3 linked regions of the Homo sapiens genome follow. The protein of the gene in region 2 interacts with the protein of the main gene of each other region in a pairwise test. Each region holds a gene or a part of one and is shown on either strand. Other genes may lie near its edges.

The links. Proteins that work in one complex are often made in the same cells at the same time.
Region 1: the proteins of AP1G1 (region 2) and BAALC interact in a two-hybrid assay, tested with the Homo sapiens proteins (one study listed by BioGRID).
Region 3: the proteins of AP1G1 (region 2) and AP1S2 interact in binary tests that used the Homo sapiens proteins (3 or more experiments, as listed by UniProt).

What each region holds. Positions count from the first base shown.
Region 1 is NC_000008.11:103,136,738-103,143,755, forward strand, and holds the start of BAALC (brain and acute leukemia cytoplasmic protein), read left to right. Parts: upstream 1-3,987; 5' UTR 3,988-4,160; coding exon 4,161-4,320; intron 4,321-4,516; exon of another isoform or gene 4,517-4,605; intron 4,606-7,018. UniProt on the Homo sapiens protein: May play a synaptic role at the postsynaptic lipid rafts possibly through interaction with CAMK2A.
Region 2 is NC_000016.10:71,742,831-71,749,863, forward strand, and holds part of AP1G1 (AP-1 complex subunit gamma-1), read right to left. Parts: intron 5,549-7,033; coding exon 5,421-5,548; intron 3,863-5,420; coding exon 3,758-3,862; intron 2,785-3,757; coding exon 2,643-2,784; intron 2,441-2,642; coding exon 2,314-2,440; intron 1-2,313. UniProt on the Homo sapiens protein: Subunit of clathrin-associated adaptor protein complex 1 that plays a role in protein sorting in the late-Golgi/trans-Golgi network (TGN) and/or endosomes.
Region 3 is NC_000023.11:15,825,275-15,830,815, reverse strand, and holds the end of AP1S2 (AP-1 complex subunit sigma-2), read left to right. Parts: exon of another isoform or gene 1-757; intron 758-2,615; coding exon 2,616-2,624; intron 2,625-3,443; coding exon 3,444-3,491; 3' UTR 3,492-5,010; downstream 5,011-5,541. UniProt on the Homo sapiens protein: Subunit of clathrin-associated adaptor protein complex 1 that plays a role in protein sorting in the late-Golgi/trans-Golgi network (TGN) and/or endosomes.

The sequences.
Region 1 (7,018 bases), on a different chromosome or scaffold from region 2:
TTCTAAAGGCAGGTTTAGGTTCCTGCTAACCCTTCTGTTCTGTCCTGATTGTCCGCCTTACTGAAGGTCTGTTTTCTACAGCTCACAATAGTCGGGTAGAGTCCAGTGATGCCAAGCCACAGAAATGAGACCTTGGAGGGAGAAGCACTACAGGCCTTTGCTTCAGTTTCCATAGAAATGAGCCAGAGGTGGTACCAGTCACAGGGGTTCTTAAAGCCAGAGAGAATTTATTTTGAGAATCCCATCATATAGCAAATACCACTCTGCAGTAGTTTTTACAGGTGTAATTTATTTCATTGCTCTGGATGGCTTTGGCTCAGGCTTTCCAATGCCCTGTTGCAGCATTTCTCCTTAGGAGAATTCTTTTTTTGTTGCTTTCAAACTTGATGGAAAAAGATAACCAATTCATGCCAGTCAAGCTACAGATTCTGAACAGAGGGTTTAAGATAATGTATTACATTTTACATATTTACATTTAATTTATGACATTTATTCCTGAAGGTTTAGGAGAAAATTCAATCCCAACTAAAGAGCTGTAATTAAAAGAGCACGGAGCCAGCAGCCACAGGCCCCCAGCTCTGGCTGAAACTTCAGCTCTGCCAGAGATAACATTTCCTGTGTGACCTTGGGCAATTTTACAGCTTTCTGAGCTACGATTTCCTAGTTGGTAAAATAAAAGGACTGGATTGGCTGCTCTTTAACTTTTTCTGGCTTCTGAATTTCTCTGAATCAATGGTGTTACGTAATGCCAAGAAAGAGATTCCATGAAAAAATCTAACTGCTCTGTCGATGATGATTACTTAGAAATGGGGGTAAAAAAATTTATTTGCAGGAAGGTTGTTAGCAGTAACATCATAACGGAAGGAAAAAGAAAGGAAAGAAAAGAAAAAAACCTACCTATTTACCAAACTTCTGCAGTGTGCTAAGCAAATTCACAAACATTATCTCATGTGAAAAGACATAATAATTTCAGGGATTTCCCTCTTAAGGAAGAGAGATGACATTGTTGCTTGTTGCCCCAAAAGTGTTGTGATAGCAACATTCATGGAGTGTTTCTATGTGCCAGGCACTCTTTGAGGCCCTTTACACATACTGACACAATTTATTATTCCAATTTACAGACGATGCAGTTGAGGCATAAAGAGGTTAAGTAGCTTGCCCAAGACCATCCACTTAAGTAGCAGAGCCAAACTTTAAACTCAGAGAGTCAGGCTCTTGAAATTGCACTGTTAACTGTATCCCCACCTTGTCTTTTGCTATTCATTCATTAGGCAAACATTTGATGAGCACTGACTCTATGAAGGCATTAAGTTAATCCCTTTTGAAGATTCCAAGCATGTCACCATATCTTTGTCTTTAAGAAGCTTAAACTATACACAATAGATGATCAGAAATGTGTGTGAAATGAGTGACCACACTCAACCTTAGCCAGGCAGTACTTGATAACCATCTCCTGTATTCTGGAAATGTTCATAATTCCATTCAAGTAAGTAGACAGGGCCTGGCAAGAGGGGTCCCTGCTCTGGGCTCCTGCCCCAGAGGTCCCACTCTGGTTCTCCAGCCCTGGTCCTCTCTATGGCCAAGGAATCCAGGGATCACAGAATGCACGTACCTGGAGCCTGAGTCTCAGCCCCTTCTAACCTCCCTGTTGGGTAGTTGAGACCTTGCAACTCTCTTCTCCAAACCCACTGAGCCTACTTCCAGGGCTTGTACTGGAAGCAAACCCCATGAGGGCAGACCACATCCCCCAGGCACATGCTCCTCAGCCAGAGGGATGGCCAAGGGCAGCTATTTGTGGGAGGGGAGTATGGACAGACCTTAGACCCATGGGCCCACAAGGACCCGTGTGTAGCAGGACTGAACTGAGGATAGAAAGAGGAGTGGGTGGGTCAATTCCACCCACAATCCCACTGCCATGTTCAGTGCAGAACTCCAAAGACTGAGAGAACTCTACATTAGAACCTGGCCTTTTAAGTTTTTATGAAGATAACTTGTCAAGGTATGAGGACAGCCCATGTTTCAATTAAACTTGCTCACTTGGTTTATAGCTTTTACAATTTAGACATATGGGCATGTGGGTTTCTATTTGGCCCCAGGATACCCCTCCACTTCACCTCACGTTTACTCTGTTTCCTGTGCTCACCAAGCTCTAGCTCTTTCAGTTTCTTTCGTTTTCTAGAACTCCCCCAGGACGGTCTAACTCAGACACTCTTTCTGGTCTGTCTGCTCTTTGGGTGGTGACATCACGAAGTGGCTGGTTATGAAAGGAGCACTGTGCCGTAGAACTGAGGAAAGCACAGGCTCTGCTAGAGATGTTAAGTATTCTCTCTCCCTGAAAGCTGGTTCTTCTGAAATCAAAATATTCAGGGGGGAAGGAAAAGAGGCACAGGGCATCTGAATTCCAAAGGACTAGGGAAGCCACCACTTCCCGGATAACTGCACTCCCTCCACCTTACACCTAAAACAAGGTTGAAGAGTCCTGTCAAGGCCATCTCAAAAGGAGAAGCAAAGCCTGCAGAGGAGGCCAGCCTGAGTCCTGGGGTGCGAACGGGTGCTGCGCTCAGCATGAGGAGGAGGAGACCCTGGCCACAGTTCCATGAATCTTTGCTCCCTTCCACATTATGGATTCTGGTGAGTGCCTGCCAGAGGAATGTCTGACAGCTCTACCCTCAACTGGATCATCTTTAGCCCAAATTACAATAATTTAAGTGAATCAAATTACTATAAAAAGATACTTCATTATTAATTCACTGGACATTTACTGAGGGCCTACTCTGTGCCAGGCAATGCTCTGAACTTGCCCTACCTATTGGATGCTACGTGCTAAATGTTATAGACAATGTACTCTCGTACATTCTATAAATTATATAGGATATAATGAGTACTATATTCTCTATGCTTTACATGCTATATTAAACATCACACCCTATAGTCTACATACAATGGATAATATACAAAATATATTATATATGTATTATGTCTACTAGAACAGTCTTTTGCCACAATAGGAATTTAGTAAATATACATTGAATGAATGAATGAATGAATATGATACTTAATACCATATTCTAGCAGAGCTTGGTCATTGAAGAGTTATTCTTCCAAACCCTTCCCTTTCCTACCCCCCTCTTGAAGGCTAAGAAGATTTTCATCTTTCACCACCTGTTCTGGATTCTTGGAACAGGTAAATTCATTGGCCTACGCAAGTCTGAGCTCTAGGTCTGAACCCGCATGGACCTGAGGGTGCACCGAGAAAAGAAAGGCTGACAACTGGATCCCGGGAATGTCAAGGCCACCCTGGGCTTGAAGGGACCGGCCATGCCTCCAAGCCTTGCCCAGAGAGGGGGTTCAGGATGCTGCGTGGTTCCAGGTGATCTATTGCTTTCTCGAGTTTAAAGTTCAGAGGATCATGAAGTACCACAGCTGGAAGGGGTGTAAGTGACACTGCCTAGCCTAACTCTCTTAAAAATCATAGCCCTACTCCTGCCTCCCCAAATCAGATACGACAGGCATAGGCTCTGACTGTTCCTTAAGTCTTAGTGGCAATACTCCCTGACCAGTTTTGCGGGGTTGCTCCCAGTTCCATTGCTTTTGTAACAGGTGGCCAGAAAGCCTGGGGTCCCGTGATAAGAGTTTCAGTTCTTTCCAGGATGGATGGAAAGAAGGAAGGAAGGATGGATGGATGGATGAATGAATGAGCGGGTGAGCGGATGGATGGATGGATGGATGGATGGATGGATAGATGGGCCAGAGACTGGGAACGGTAATGCCGGCCAGACGGGTCCGAGCGCCTCGGGAGCCCCAGCCCTCCTCCGGCTGCGGGGCCGCTGCTCCTGCTCCCGGGCCGTCACGGAGCCCTGAGGGAGGGGGCGGGCGAGCGGGGGCCTTGGGGCGGCCAGGGCGCTGGGAGGGAGGACTGGGCGGTGGGGACCGGAGGGGAGGGAGGGCCTTGGAGGCGGAGAGGAGGGACGGGCTGGGAGAGGGCCCGGACTAGGGGCGGCGGGCACCGCAGGAGCTCCGCGCGGCTGCAGCGCGGGCGGGAGCGGGGACGCGATGTCGCCGCCGCCGCCTCCTTGCGGGCCGGGGCTGCGCCTCCGGGGCTGAGCCGCCGCCAGAGCCGACAGCCGAGCAGCCGCTGGGCGCTCCCGCGGCGCAGGAGGATGGGCTGCGGCGGGAGCCGGGCGGATGCCATCGAGCCCCGCTACTACGAGAGCTGGACCCGGGAGACAGAATCCACCTGGCTCACCTACACCGACTCGGACGCGCCGCCCAGCGCCGCCGCCCCGGACAGCGGCCCCGAAGCGGGCGGCCTGCACTCGGGTAAGTGGCCGGGCCCCTGCAGACCCTCGCCCGCCCGCTACCCCGGGCGCCTTGGCCCGGGCACTGAGAGAGGAGCCGGTTCCCTGAGGAATTGATGGCGCGGCGGGGGTGGCTGGGAGGAAGCAGAGGCAGGACCTGCCCACTGATCAGTGGACAGATGCAAGCCCAGGGAGTGGGGTCGACCAGAGCCCCTTACCGAAGGCTGCGCCGATGCCCCAGCTTCCAGCAGCCCAATGCTCTTTGGCCTTGTCCAAAGCTTGCTCGCTGGTCGGGAGACCGGTGGGTGGGAGGACAGCCCACCTCCTCCGCACACATATCCCTCAGCCACCCACCCCCTGATCCGCCCAGGGCCGCCTCCGCCCCGCTTTGGCCCATCTGCCATCCCCTGGCCACCTGCGTACCCAGCCGGGTGACTTCTCATCCATTGGCCACCTGGTGCCCCTCTCTCCCTGGATTTATACACAAGGCGCCTGCCTGGGATCGCCTGGGTGGAGTCTTTCTTGTCGCTTCCCCTTTTCTCCCTCTAGGAAATGAGCCCACTCGCGGGCTTCAAAGACCAGAATCCCAGTTTAGGTCAAAATAAATGCACCCCGCCCCATCGCTAGTTCTGCACTTTAGGTTACTTTTGGAGCAGTTGTTCCATAGCAAAGGACTTCTCTCCCTACCCTATGGTGTCCCAATGCTTTGCAGGAGGCAGGGCACACATGTGGATTTTGACTATAAATTAAATACTCTTGCCTAGGTCATTCCTCATCCAGCAGAAATCTGATAAAAGGAGATGCAAAGAATTGTCTGGTCAGGTCATAAGTCAGGATTTTATTTTATTTTATTTTTTTATTTTTTAGCAGAACAAGTAATTATAGCGCAGAGATGCAAACTGTTGCCACAGACTGACCTTTAATCATAAACATATTGGTGACATTAAAAGGAAAAAATCTCACTACTTATTACATGGATGTTGTCCAAAGCAAGGTCAATATTTGGATAAAAATGTTTTAAGTGTTTCTTCACCCACTGATATTATTGGCATTTTTGAATAATGAAATCTAAAATGGAAAATAGGGTTAATTTGAAGCATAATGTATAACATATGGAAGAGGAAGGAAATGCGAATTACTTTTACAAGGTTAAGAATCTTAAATCCATGCCTACTAAATAGAGCTGTCACTTTAATCAAGAATAGGTTTCTCCATTTTTAAGGACCAAAGCTGGCTCCTTTTCCACATTAACTTTGTGACTTGGTTTTATTTTAAAATTGAGGACTGTCTGTGAAAGCTGTACAATACATTACACTATATTTGTCTCCAGTTTTTCTGACTCACAGTGGCAATCAGAATGGTTATTTTGTATTGCCAATGCTTTTAGCAAGTCACCAAATGGTGTGTTGGCTGAATTCAGTGTCAGCATGAGGATAGATATGAGCCTTTTAGAGGGACCTGGTAAATGTTAGATGTGACAGGGTTTCCCAAGGAGGTATGGTACTTCTCAGCAGAGAGTCAAAGGCCAGAGATGTACTCCGAAGAAATAAGGGTGAAAAGATCTAGCATGAAAAAAATAATAATAAAAAACAACCAAAACCCCGTAAGTACAGCTTTAAGAAATGGTTGCCGTGGTGACTGGGAGTATATGGTGTGTGTGTGTATGTGCGTATATGCATATGTATGGGTATGAAAGAGTTATTATGGGATGGCTCTATATGTACATACATGTTCCTCACAACTTTCCTGACACTCCTTGATTTATTACTCTGCCATACTAATTCATATCCCATCCATCATGAGATCTGGTCACTGCAACAGGTGGGGCCTGGGACAGACACACTCATTCATGGTACCCTGCCAAACATGGGCCAGCCCTGCCAGAGAGGTGGTCCTGAAGGCCTGCATCCTCCAGAGGAGAAGCTCCACTTCAGCCCCAGGACAGCACCCTGAAATTGGCAAGACGCTTGTATGGGCAGGGTCATTTTAATTCCCTGGGAATTTCTGTTAGCCTCAGGGGAGAGGGATATTTCTGAAGACCAAGATTAAATCAAGGCCTTCTTTGGGGGTGTACTGGCATTCCCTAGGGCCTTTGGGAATGGCTTGACTTCTGTGGGTTTTTCAGACTGGGAGCTGGTCATCTTTAGTCAGAATGGGTCATCCGTGAAAGCTACAGATCTCCTGGGTTTCAGCCACCCTGGGAGACTGGCCAGGATTCTGTATTCCTTTCATCTTCTCTGCCCCCTCACTTCCACCTCACCCACCCCCTGCCAGTGCTTTACTCATGATTTTACTCCCAAGCTGCTGGGGGACACCTAACAGCCCCCAGTGGCTGCGTTGTGATAGGAGGCCAGAATGCCACTTTTTCCTGTTTACAGAAGTTGTTTTCTGATGGGAGAGGTGGGTAGGAGTAAATGAAAGAGCCAGTAGATTCAGGAGAGTCCAGACTGTGAAATCAACAAAAATGGCTTCACTACTAGAATTCTAGAGCTGGAGAAGGTCTCTGGAAGTCAGCCACGTGAGTCAAATGAGACTCTCAGGGGAATCATCCCCATCTGAACACTCCTTCAACCACTCACAGACTTTACCCTCAGCTCCCAAGAATCCCTTCTTTCTGGGACCTTAGTGATTCTCCTTTGGTGTCAAACTGAAGCCACCTTTTCTCCTGGCTACTTCAGGACTTTTGAGGGCTAGGGGAGAAGCTAATTCATCTTTGCATC
Region 2 (7,033 bases):
GCATGGTGGCACGTGCCTATAAATCCCAGCTACTCGGGAGGCTGAGGCAGGAGAATCACTTGAACCCGGGAGGCAGAGGTTGCAGTGAGCCGAGATCGTGCTGTTGCACTCCAGCCCGGGCAACAAAGCAAGATTCCGTTTCAAAAAAACCAAAAAAAAAAGCCAAACTACCCAATACTAACGAACTGAGTAAACAGAGCAAATTTGTTGATAAAGTATTAGTCACCTAAAATTATAATTATGAAGGCTATATATATTAACATGGAAATACTAACATATTAGGTGAAGTATATGCTATGGTTTAACTGTGGGGTTGTTTTTTCTTTGCCGGTTATCCAGTACAGCTTTGACATTTGAGGATTTGAAATTGACCATTTGTAAATGATTCATAAGTACATGACAAGTAACATTTTGAAATTTTGTTAAGACACAGACATAAATCCTATACTCTGTGACTCCACTGTATTAGGAAAAAAAAAAATCAGCCTGTGGGAATGAGCTTAGCTAACCATCCAACTTGTTATCCTATGTCTATTTTTTACTCAAGGTCATGTGTGCTTTAACTCTTCATTATCCTCTTAAAGAAGACAGCAAAACCCCGTCTCTACTAAAAATACAAAAAATTAGCCGGGCATGGTGGCATTCGCCTATAATCCCAGCTACTCAGGAGGCTGAGGCAGGAGGCTCACTTGAACGCAGGAGGCAGAGGTTGAAGTGAGCCGAGATAATCCCACTGCACTCCAGCCTGGCTGACAGAGTGAGACTCTGTCTCAAAAAAAAAAAAAAAAAGACACTTTAACCTTTCAGCTATACTTTACACTGAAATTTAGGATAGAAGTTGTAGGCCAGGCGTGGTGGCTCACACCTGTAATCCCAGCACTTTGGGAGGCTGAGGTGGGTGGATCACGAGGTCGGGACCAACCTGGCCTACATGGTGAAACCCTGTCTCTCCTAAAACTACAAAAATTAGCCAGGCGCAGTAGCAGGCGCCTGTAATCCCAGCTATTCAGGAGGCTGAGGCAGGAGACCTGCTTGAACCCAGGTTGCAGAGGCTGCAGTGAGCCGAGATCATGCTACTGCACTCCAGCCTGGGTGACAGAGTGAGACTCTGTCTCAAAAAAAAAAAAAAAAAGGCCAGGCGAAGTGGCTCACGCCTGTAATCCCAGCACTTTGGGAGGCCGAGGCAGGGGGATCATGAGGTCAGGAGTTCAGGACCAGCCTGACGAACATGGAGAAACCCCATCTCTACTAAAAATACGAAAATTAGCCAGGGCATGGTGGTGCGTGCCTGTGATCCCAGCTACTCAGGAGGCTGAGGCAGAAGAATCGCTTGAACCCGGGAGGCGGAGGTTGCAGTGAGTCGAGATCGTGCCACTGCACTCCAGCCTGTGCAACAGAGCAAGACTCCATCTCAAAATAAAAATAAAAGTTGTATTGGACTCGGGTTTATCATATTGCTGAACATGTCAATTACAAATGACTGGTATATATGAACAGAAGAAAAAATATTCCCAAATGAAAAGTTATGTTTGAATATTATGAGTGATTGCCCTTCAGTTGCTTTAATTACAGAAAGTGTGAAAGGGAAGAGGTAAGTAGCAGGTTAACATCTCTCCACAAATGGCCACAGCTACTGAAAACTAACCATTAGTGGGAAGGAACCAAGAAGAAGTCATGTCTTGGGACACTAAAAGCAAAGGTGATACGGGATATATTTTTTGAGCTTGAAAGAGAAAGTGTGTTTTTTTTTTTTTTTTTTTGGAGACAGAGTCTTGCTCTGTCACCCAGGCTGCAGTACACACTGGCGCGATCTCGGCTCACTGCAACCTCCGTCTCTCAGGTTCAAGCGATTCTCCTGCCTCAGCCTCCGGAGTAGCTGGGATTATAGGCATGCACCACTTCACCCGGCTAATTGTTGTATTTTTAGTAGAGATGGCGTTTCACCATGTTGGCCAGGCTGGTCTAGAACTCCTGACCTCAGGTGATCCACCTGCCTCTGCCTCCCAAAGTGCTGGGATTACAGGCATGAGCCACTGCGCCCAGCCAGGAAAAGTAGTTTCTATCTTAAAACACTATGAATAATTTATTCACCCAAAATTAGGAGTTTGCCTTTAAGAAATCCGTATAAATTATCTTTAGAGCATTATTAGTATACAACATATAACCCGGATATTGTGAAGATTTGACTCTTGCTTCTGATTTAGCCTCTCCCATCTTCAAATGATTCACGTGCTGGAAAGTCTGGGTTCAGTTTAGTTTTTCCCTGAGGCCTCTATCTTTTCCCAGGTATTAAATAGCTCCAGACTGCCTCACCTGTAAGGTTGATGTCTCCCAGCAAATCAAGAAGTTCTCCACCAGCAGAAGATGGTTTGCTTGTAGGCGCAGTTGGAATAACAGGTGTTATGTCATTTCCTCCCAACAAATCCAATAAATCATTGGCCTAAACAAGGTAACAACACCTCAATTCATTATTATTTGATTTGTCTAGTATACATCTAATGCAAAGCTCTTTCAATATGTAAAAATAAGGAAGGAAATCATCAACCAACCCAGGAACATTAAAGGGACTCAGCTAAGAGACAAGCTGTAAGGGACTATAAAATCGTAAGAAGCCCCAGATGAGCAAGTGAAAGGCTGGCTACCTGGCTGGTGGGCTGTGGCCCAGAGGGTGGCGGTTTGGTCTCTAGTGGAGCTGGTTCTGTCTCTCCATTTGTCTGCACAATCTCAGTAGGGCCATTTGTGGTCACTTTTTCCATGACAGGCATTCTCTCAAGTAGGGCAGACCTAGAAGAATCTGAAGTGGTTAAATTCTAGGCAGTTAACCTAGATTCCCTACCCAAAATAATCACCATTAACTATGTTGAGCCCAAGCATGGAGATCTATCTCCCCTCCCCATCCAACACACACACTAAAATAGAAGGTAGATTACAAGAATACATGACCTAAATTCCTGGCTGGATTAAGGGCAGACAAAAAAATCTTGAATAAACAGACTGCCCAGCTAAATCCCAAAGCATATATTTCAGTGGTAGAGAGACTGAGATGAAAGAAAGGTAAATCCATAGGTATTAACAGTCAAGAAGATACTGTATAATAGAAGAATAAAAGATGACCCAAACACTAGAATGTTAACAGTAAAAGAATTTGAATGAGATTATTTGTCTTGAAAAAATACAACTCCCACTTCTTTTTTTTTTGAGACAGAGTCTTGCTCTGTCGCCAGGCTGGAGTGCAGTGGCATGATCTTGGCTCACTGAAACATCCGCCTCCCAGGTTCAAATGATTCTCCTGCTTCAGCCTCTCGAGTAGCTGGGAATACAGGCATGCGCCACCATGCCCAACTAATTTTTTTGTATTTTTAGTAGAGACGGGGTTTCACCATGTTGGCCAGGATGGTCTCGATCTCTTGACCTCGTGATCTGCCCGCCTCGGCCTCCCAAAGTGCTGGGATTACAGGCGTGAGCCACCACGCCCGGCCTCCCACTTCTTAACTAAATAAAATAGAAAATAAAGCAAACTTTCCATATCAAAAAAAGTGTAAGTGTTGGAGGTGGAATGAAAGAGAGTTAATTTATTTCTTTAGAGACTAGGCAGAATAGAAGATGGACAAAACAGAAGCAGACAAGCAATTAGAACTAAATAGGGATACGAGGAACAATTAATAAAGCACAAGGAATGAATCTTCTTTATGGATTACCATGACAATTTAGTCAGGATGCTAAGAGATACACGCATTGCTTAGTTTCTTTCGCTCACCTCATGTGGTCATATTTCTTGAAAAGTGCATTATATTCTACTGCCCTCTGCTGGAGTTCCACATCAATGCTGCTTCCGTAGATGGAAACCACTTTCTTAATTCGGCTATAGATAAAATGACAAACGAAATAAAATACCCAAAAGAAAATTCACAAATAAGCAGAGATAATGTTTAATAAGCCAGAATTTTCTGGTTAAAATACTGAAATACTCATTTTTTCTTAATTTATATAGTTTTTCAAAAACAAAACACTTTACTTTCATCCATTTATCTGACATTCGCATTATACTATTCTCATTGTAACACTAGATTTTTGTCTGTTAAATATGCCATCCCCATTCAGCAACAATGATGGTGTGGAAAAAACACATATATATATGCCACTCCCTAAACTTTGCTAGACAAAAGTACCAACTATTACTTTGCCACAAAAGAAATTTGTACTGTTCATTCTCTTCTTTGATAATTTTTAAATAATTTTTAATCTATAAAAGGGTCAGAGCCTCAAAATGTTGACCCCAAATTCTTCCAGTTCAGAATTTTAAAAGTAATTCAATACCATTTTTTATAAGACTTCACATTTAAAAGTGAAGCAGAAAGACTACAAGAACTACGTTGGCCTTAAATATGCTTGGGTGGGAAAGTGACCTGAGAATCTACTTTATTCAAAAAAGCAAAGAGGAGAATTAAAAGATTTAATCACCAAAACATTCATGATTTTATTCCTATTAAGACTTGTCAAAATATAATAAACCAAAACCTTGGCCAGATTACAAGGTCAGGAGTTCGAGACCAGTCTGGCCAAAATGGTGAAACCCCATCTCCACCAAAAAATACAAAAATTAGCCAGGCATGGTGGTGTGCGCCTGTAATCCCAGCTACTCAGGAGGCTGAGGCAGGAGAATTGCTTGAACCCTGGAGATGGAGATTGCAGTGAGCCGAGATTGTATGCCACTGCACTCCAGCCTGGCAACAGAGCAAGATTCTGTCATAAAATAAAATGAAATATAAAATACAAATAAACCAAAACCTTTATATGGGGAAGTAGATTCTCAACTTAAAAAGAAAAAAAAAAGGTATTAGAAATCTCATTCTAAAAACGTAACTTTTAGGCCAGGTGGAGTGGGTCACATCTGTAATCCCTGCACTTTGGGAGGTCAGGGCAGGAGGATCACTTGAGCCCAGGAGTTTGAGACCAGCCTGGGCAAACAAACGAAACACTTTCTCTACAAAAAAATGTAAAAATTAGCCAGGCACGATGGTGTGCACTTATAGTCCCAGCTCCTCTGGAGGCTGAGACAGGAAGATCCCTTAAGCCCAGGAGTTCAAGGTTGCAGTAAAATATGATGGCGCCACTGCACCCCATCCTGGGTAAGAGAGCGAGACCCTGTCTCAACAAACAAACAAAACCCCCTAAACTTTTCTGCTTCAAAATAATCCACAAGGGAGTAAAAGAATGAGAGGGAACAAAGTGCTGATGAATAAAGATTAACCACAAATTGATCACTGTGACTGTGGAGAAATAAGTAATGGAAATTTGTGTTATTATTCTCTCTACTTTTGTCTATGCTTGAAATTTTCCATGATAACAAGTTTTTTGGGATTTTTTTTGTTTTTTAATTACAAAACAACCTGTTCACCCTATGTTTCTTCAATACTCACTTTACAGTACAAGTGAATCGAGTGGAAAGCTTCATAATGGCAGTGAGGGCATAACCTCGTGTCACAGAGGTGGACATATTAGAGATTAGGACACTTTCTAAAATATCCAACACTTCATCCTCTGTTACCTGAGGAGGAGGAGGAAAAAGAAGACGATGAAGAATGAGTAGCATGATTAAGCATCTAAATCTGATATCAAGTCAGGGGAAGCAGCCAGAAAGACAATCCTACCGTTACAAAAGCCTCTAACTCAACCTGTGCTTTGCCAGGGTAACTGTCCAAGCTGTTCTATCAACCAGAGTAGTTGGGGGTAAAAAAAAGTGCTCTGGTTCTATCAACCAGAGCAGGTGGGGGTAAAAAGAGTGAAAAATGACCACTGGGGCTGAGAGGCAATATTAGAGCTTCAAGTGGCAGAAACAGAAGAAGAAAAGAAAAACATACAGAGTTCAAGTGTTGTTGCCACAATTTTCCCTTTTAAAGCCAGTCCTTTAATGTGCAAATAAGAACATGGATACATGTCTCATTTCTTCTTGTTTACCAGCCAGAGGGTAAGAGAAACAGTAATTCAGTCCACTAGGACAGAGACTTGGGCCTAAAGTGGTTTTAAAATCTCACAATGGGGCCAGGCAAAGTGGCTCACACCTGTTTTGTTTTTTTTTTGTTTTTTTTGTTTTGAGACGGAGTCTGGCTCTGTCACCCAGGCTGGAATGCAGTGGCGCAATCTTGGCTCACTGCAAGCTCCACCTCCCGGGTTCACGCCATTCTCCTGCCTCAGCCTCCCGAGTAGCTGGGACTACAGGTGCCTGCCACCACGCCCGGCCAATTTTTTCTACTTTTTAGTAGAGATAGGGTTTCACTGTGTTAGCCAGGATGGTCTGGCTAACCACCCTGCAGGTGACCTCATGATCCACCCGCCTTGGCCTCCCAAAGTGCTGGGATTACAGGCATGAGCCACCACACTCAGCAATGCCTGTTAATCCCAACACTTTGAGAGGCCAAGGCAGGCAGATTGCTTGAGTCCAGAAGTTCAAGACCAGCCTGGGCAACACGGTGAAACCCTGTCTCTACAAAAAAAAAGTAGAATAAACTAGCCAGGGTGGTGCCTGCCTATAGTCCCAGCTACTCAGGAGGCTGAGGTGGGAAGATCGCTTGAAACCCAGGAGATCAAGGCTGCAGTGAATTGTGATCCCACCATGGCACTCCAGCTTGGGTGACAGAGTGAGACTCTATTAAAAAAAAAAAAACAAAAAACCTCACAATGGCTCAATAAGTTCCATCTCAAAAAATGGCAGGTTTTCCAATATAATTCGCGTTTGCTTCTTTAAAAAGTTGGGTATTTTTTAAATTTTTTTGAGACAGGGTCTCACTCCTGAGTAGCTGGGACTAGACACCATCATACCTGTCTAATATTTGTGTCTTTTGTAGAGACAGAGTTTCACCATGTTGCCCAGGCTGGTCTCAAACTCCTGGGCTCAAGCGATGCTCCCATCTCAGCCTCCCAAAGCGCTGGGATTATAGGCATGAGCCACCACGCCTGGCCTAAAAAGTTTTCAAGGAATCAACCTCAACTCCCCATTAAACACTACTCTCCTATAACCAAAACCACTATTTTC
Region 3 (5,541 bases), on a different chromosome or scaffold from region 2:
GCTGAATAATAACTCTTTCAAAGCATTAATGCTGAGTTTATATAGTTCAAAAATTCTAATATTCATTCAGTTTTAATACCTAAATACTTATATTTTACTAGTGATGGCATTCTAATATATTAAGTCCTCATTTAAATACTTGATACTTTGTTAACTGTGGCATTATATTTCTGAATTTTAAAACCTTTAATATTGGTAACTATTGCATATTCTTTTAATAAAACATGCAGCATATTTTTTTATAAAAGGAAAAGAATTCATTGTTTATATCTAGAGAGCATAAAGCCTAAGTTAAGTAAGTTATTAAACAATAACTTCACAAGATGTTCAAATCGATTTATCACTGAAAGAAGATCTATGAAAATGTGTTTTGACCAAACTTAGTATTAGGCAGGTACACAGATAAGATTTTCCATTCTTAACATTCTCACTGTAATGCACGACATTTGAAGCACCTGGATGTGCTATCAATCAGGTGGGAAATTTAGCATTATATATTGGAAGCATTGAGAAACATTGGTCTTTCATTTCTATTTTTTTTTCCCCTCCTTTCCTCCTCCTGCCCCACAATATATTATTCATCTGGTTTTAATGCTACATAAATATGCATTGTCTCATGCCTGTTTGTGTTGGATGCCTTGTGCTAAGCTGTAACAAAATGTTGCTTCTTTTGCTGTCTGTATACAGCTGCTTGCTTTAAATTAGTAGATTCTGAAATAGCTTTCCTTGCATGTCTAAAATAAAAGTATTGCATGTACTTCGTCTCATGTGAATGACTTTTTCTTTTCCATCCCTCATAAAATAACGTTTTATATTTTCATTTTTCTAGGCAAATTTTTTAAATTGTGGTTAAAAACACATAACACAGAATTCACCATCTTACGCAGTTTTAAGTGTACAGTTCAGTTGTGTTAGTTAAGTTTATTCACATTGTTGTGCAGCAGATCTGCAGGACTTTTTCATCTGGCAGAACTGAAACTCTATACCCATTAATCAACAATTCCCCATTTCTCCCTGTCCCCCAGCCCCTGGCAACCACCATTCGACTTTCTGTTTCTATAAATTTTACTACTTTAGATAGATAATAGTTTTTCTGGGTAGTTTTGAGCTACAATTTCAGTGTGAACATGTGTAAGTTCCATTTTATATTATCACCACAATTTATTTTAAAACTCTACCTGTGCAAGTCTCACAAGAATAAAATGTGTAAATAATTCTTTGAAACTAGGCCTTTTAGAAAGGACACATATTTTCAATAATGCATATTTGATAAGCAGTATGATTCTCTACAGGAAATGCTATATAAGATTGCAGGCAGTGAGCACATGGGGAAAAGTCTGACCAGCTCCACGGAGTAGCTGTGGGGCATTTTTACATGGAGAAGCTGAGAATGTAAACTGTAGAATTCAATGGAGGCATTATTTAATTGATACATTCAAGGCTACATGAACCTTTAAACTACTTAACATTACATGGAAATAATTATTTTAAATTTTTCTTGAATATTTATGAGATTTAGATGTCATTCTCAGTGTATTTAATGCTTAAGGCTAAATATAAATGAAAGGGATTGGCTTACATCACTCTTGGGTGTTACATCATTTCCACTGGACTTTCTTAAAAAACTTTATCATGAAAACTTCAAGACTCACGAGTATAGGAAATAGTATAAAGAACCCTCGTGTACACATCACTGAGCTTCAAGAACCATCAACTTAATACTGTTTCCCCAACCACTCCCCGCATTTTTGCCTCAGTATCTTAGAGCAAGCCCTAGACATCTTGTCAGTTTGTCTTTAATACTTCAGTATGTGTCCCTAACAGATAAAGTACCATGCCCCACAAAATTAACAGGAATTAATAATTACTATCTTATGCCTGGCTCAATTTTTCCTAATTGTCTGAAAAATGCCTTTTTATATTTGGTTTGTTAGAATCAGATTCCAACCAAGACTCTCACATTGTATCTGATTGATGTGCGTTTTAAGTCTCTTTTAATCTTTAACAAATCGTCTGCTTTTTCCCGCCTTGCCATTTTTTTTTTTTAAAACGAGGTCATTTATGCTGCAGGATGTCCTACCTTATGGATTTGGCCATCATACTCATATGGCAATGTTTAGCTGTTCTTATATCCCTCATTTCTATTTAGATCTGTAACCTGACTAGATTGAGGTTCAATTTGAGGGGGCAAGAATACTTCATAGGTTAGACTCTTTTTAAAAAAATACCTTTTTTCGCTAAAGCTGATTTTTACCCATTTTTATTACTATGCAGACATACTAAAAGGTCATCATATGAGCTTTATAAGTAGAATTGGTGTATAGTACTTGCGTTTAATAATAAATGCTAAATCATTTCGATTTCAATTGTGTAACTATATCACCTAACATTTTTGAAGCACTTTCTATAAATTAGGCAGAGCCTTAATTCACTTAATCTCAACATATGAAGGTAAGTACTATTATCCATGTTTTCCAAATAAGGAAACAGACCATAGAGTTTAAGTAATTTACTTAAGATTACACCATGAAGTGCTTTACATGCAATTAATATTCTAAAGATTTATGGTTTAATATAATTTCTCTTCTCCTTGCTTTGTGCTGTACCATGATTAGGATGCGAAAGTAAGTTTATTACTGGATGCCAAAAATTTATATTATTTTCCATCATTAAAATATAGTGTTGCCTTTTAATTACAAAATTCGTTGCTAGTAATACCTGAAAGTTGGCCTCCTTGGTCCTTTATTTTGTGATTTGCAAAATCAGCCACTTTGGAAAATTATTAAATAATTTTTTCCTGGATATGCTTACTTTGTTTTGACCTCCTTTGACACTTAAAAACCAGTGCTGGTTGCTACATAGAATAAAAATGCCTTTGGCCCATGGCATTCTTTGCATATGTGGCCTCTAGTGATGCCATTGGTTGCACTGGGGAGGTCTGGGAAGATAGCTGTTTCTGAAGACTTGCCGCTGTGGACACAGTTAACTAAAAACTCCAAGAGGAAGACATTTCTATAAATGCATGTGACAAAAAGCATGGAACACAACAGTAGGCGAAGAACTGTGGGAACTCGGAGGGAAGAGGTTTTGAATTTTACCACTAAGATAACTTATCTTTCATATATATAATTGAGTAGCAGTGATTTCATAAATTGCCAGCAGGTTTGCACTGGGCTTGACTGCTTTTTGCATGACAGCAACGGCATCTAGCACATTGGTAGGTAATTAGCAGGTACTTAATGAATGCTGAAAACGTCCTTTTGTGGTCTCCAATTTTGAGGGCACAAAACCCTAAATAACCAATGGCTGTCAACTAGAATGCTACTGTGACACGAAATTGCTTTCTTGATTCTCTAAAACAAGCATGTTCTTCCATGTCAATGTTTCACATTCTCAAGACTCCCTGGATCTGCTTACCAGAGTCTCACATTTTCCCTCCACAGGAAGCTGAAACCCCACGTAGTGTTCTTGAAGAAATTGGACTGACATAACTCTCCTCCCTTGTTGATGACTTCTTGTGGCATTTCACACACTGTAGATGGTCACTCCCTTCATGTCCATGTTAGCTCATGGTGTAAGATGATGTCTTGTCAGTATTACTGTTTTGCTAAGCCGCTTCATTCATGCCTACACAATTTTTTTTTAAAAGGGAACTTTAGTTAATTAAGTGATAAGGGACTTAAATATGAATTAGAATGGTGCAGAAAGAGATACCTTTTCTGGATATTTTAAAGTTTAAAGGTCAGTTTCTCTTAATCTGATTATGTGCACATATGAAAATGGCACATCATATACATGTAAAATCAGGCAGTATACATTTATTAATTACTGTATTTGACAAAGGAAACTCTTAAATTATAATGTGAAACCTGGTTTTATGAAACCAAAGACTAGTGCAGCATTTCAGCATATGTAAAAAAAAAAAAAAAGGGAATTGACATGTCACATATCAAATGAATGGAAACTTTGTTGAAACTTTAAAAAGCAAATTTACTCCAAAGACTTGTATTGGAAATTACATACCTTTTTTTTTTTTTTTTAAAGGACTACAGATTATTTTTAATGACTAAATTGGAGTGATACTTCTTACACTAAAAATTATTTCTTAGGCATTCTGAATCTGGGATGAGAAACAGGATTGTTTCACAATAGTAAGCACATAATTTTTAAGGCCAAGGCACATTTGACTCCTGAGATGAATTTTTTGTGGTCATAATCAAATACTTAGTTGTTTTTGATGCCCCAAAATAAAGTGAGAATGGTAATTTGCCAGGAATTCTTCATAACAGTATCTTACAAAAAACGTGTTGCTCTCTTCACAGTATTATGTGTAAAGTCATTGTTTAAAGCACGAATGTTCCCTCTGGGGTACTTGTTAAAGCTAAATTTATTTTGCTTCCCTCCACTTAGAAGTGCTGCACACTTTACAGCAGCTTCCTTTCTTTCCATGGCACTGCCTAGTTAACAGAAGTCTTATAAAAATTTAAAAAGACACATTTCTTACAAAAAAGAGTTGAATGAGGTAAAATGGCATTAGATGGCTCTATATTTTTTAAAGCTATGTAATTGTTCAGCGTCACTTTTCTAAGTACTTATACATATCTAAACATGTCTTCATGGTTTATATTTTCACTTATATATGCTGGGCTGGATTAAGCTTTGTTGTGATTGTGACCAACATTCAGGCCACGTGAGCACTGTCTTATCACATCGCCAATTAGTTGTAATAAACGTTCAACGTACAAACACTGGAGTGTGTTTTTATCTCTTTCCAAAAGTTTGTCAAACTATGCAGAGCTGCTGAAGGAAGAATTTCTCATTTTTTTTTCAGTAAAATGTTGAAAATTCCCCTCCATTTGAATATGGTGGTTGTTATAAGCACACACAAGATACATGGTGGAAGATCTAAGGAGTCTTCATGTACTTCATTAAAAAATAACATGGATTCCATACTGAGAGCCTATCTACACATTTATTTTCAATCAATAAATGCTGCTTTTAAAACCTTGATGCAGTTGACTTTTCTACTCTTTCTGAATGAACAACTTAGACTGTTACTCAAAAGGTATTTCAAATCAACTGGATTCCTCTTACCCCCTTGTGAACTGAAGGTGCTAGCACATGCAACAGAAAGGGACTAATACTTGCAGACTGTACTACCTAACCTATGCAACAAATCAAATCTATGGTAATCATGATAGTTAAGGGACCTCCTATTACTACAGATAGGAAATGTTACATTCTAAAACTGGGCTATTTAAGAAGGAGGCAGGAACTACCATCAAATTAAGTTGCTAGTCTACTGGAAAAAAAGACGTTTATAGGTTTAAAAAGCCTCCAACATGCAGCTAGCTATTCACTGAAAACAGGCCTGTGGGTTTCTGCTAGCAATGTATAGTTGGAATTTTTGAAACATAAATAGTAATCAGGCAATATATATTAAAAAAAACTAATAAATTTAAGTTCAAGATGGACATTTATCAGGATAATGAACCAGTCAGTGGTTTAAAAACTTCCTGCCCTTCTACCCTGCCTATTAAC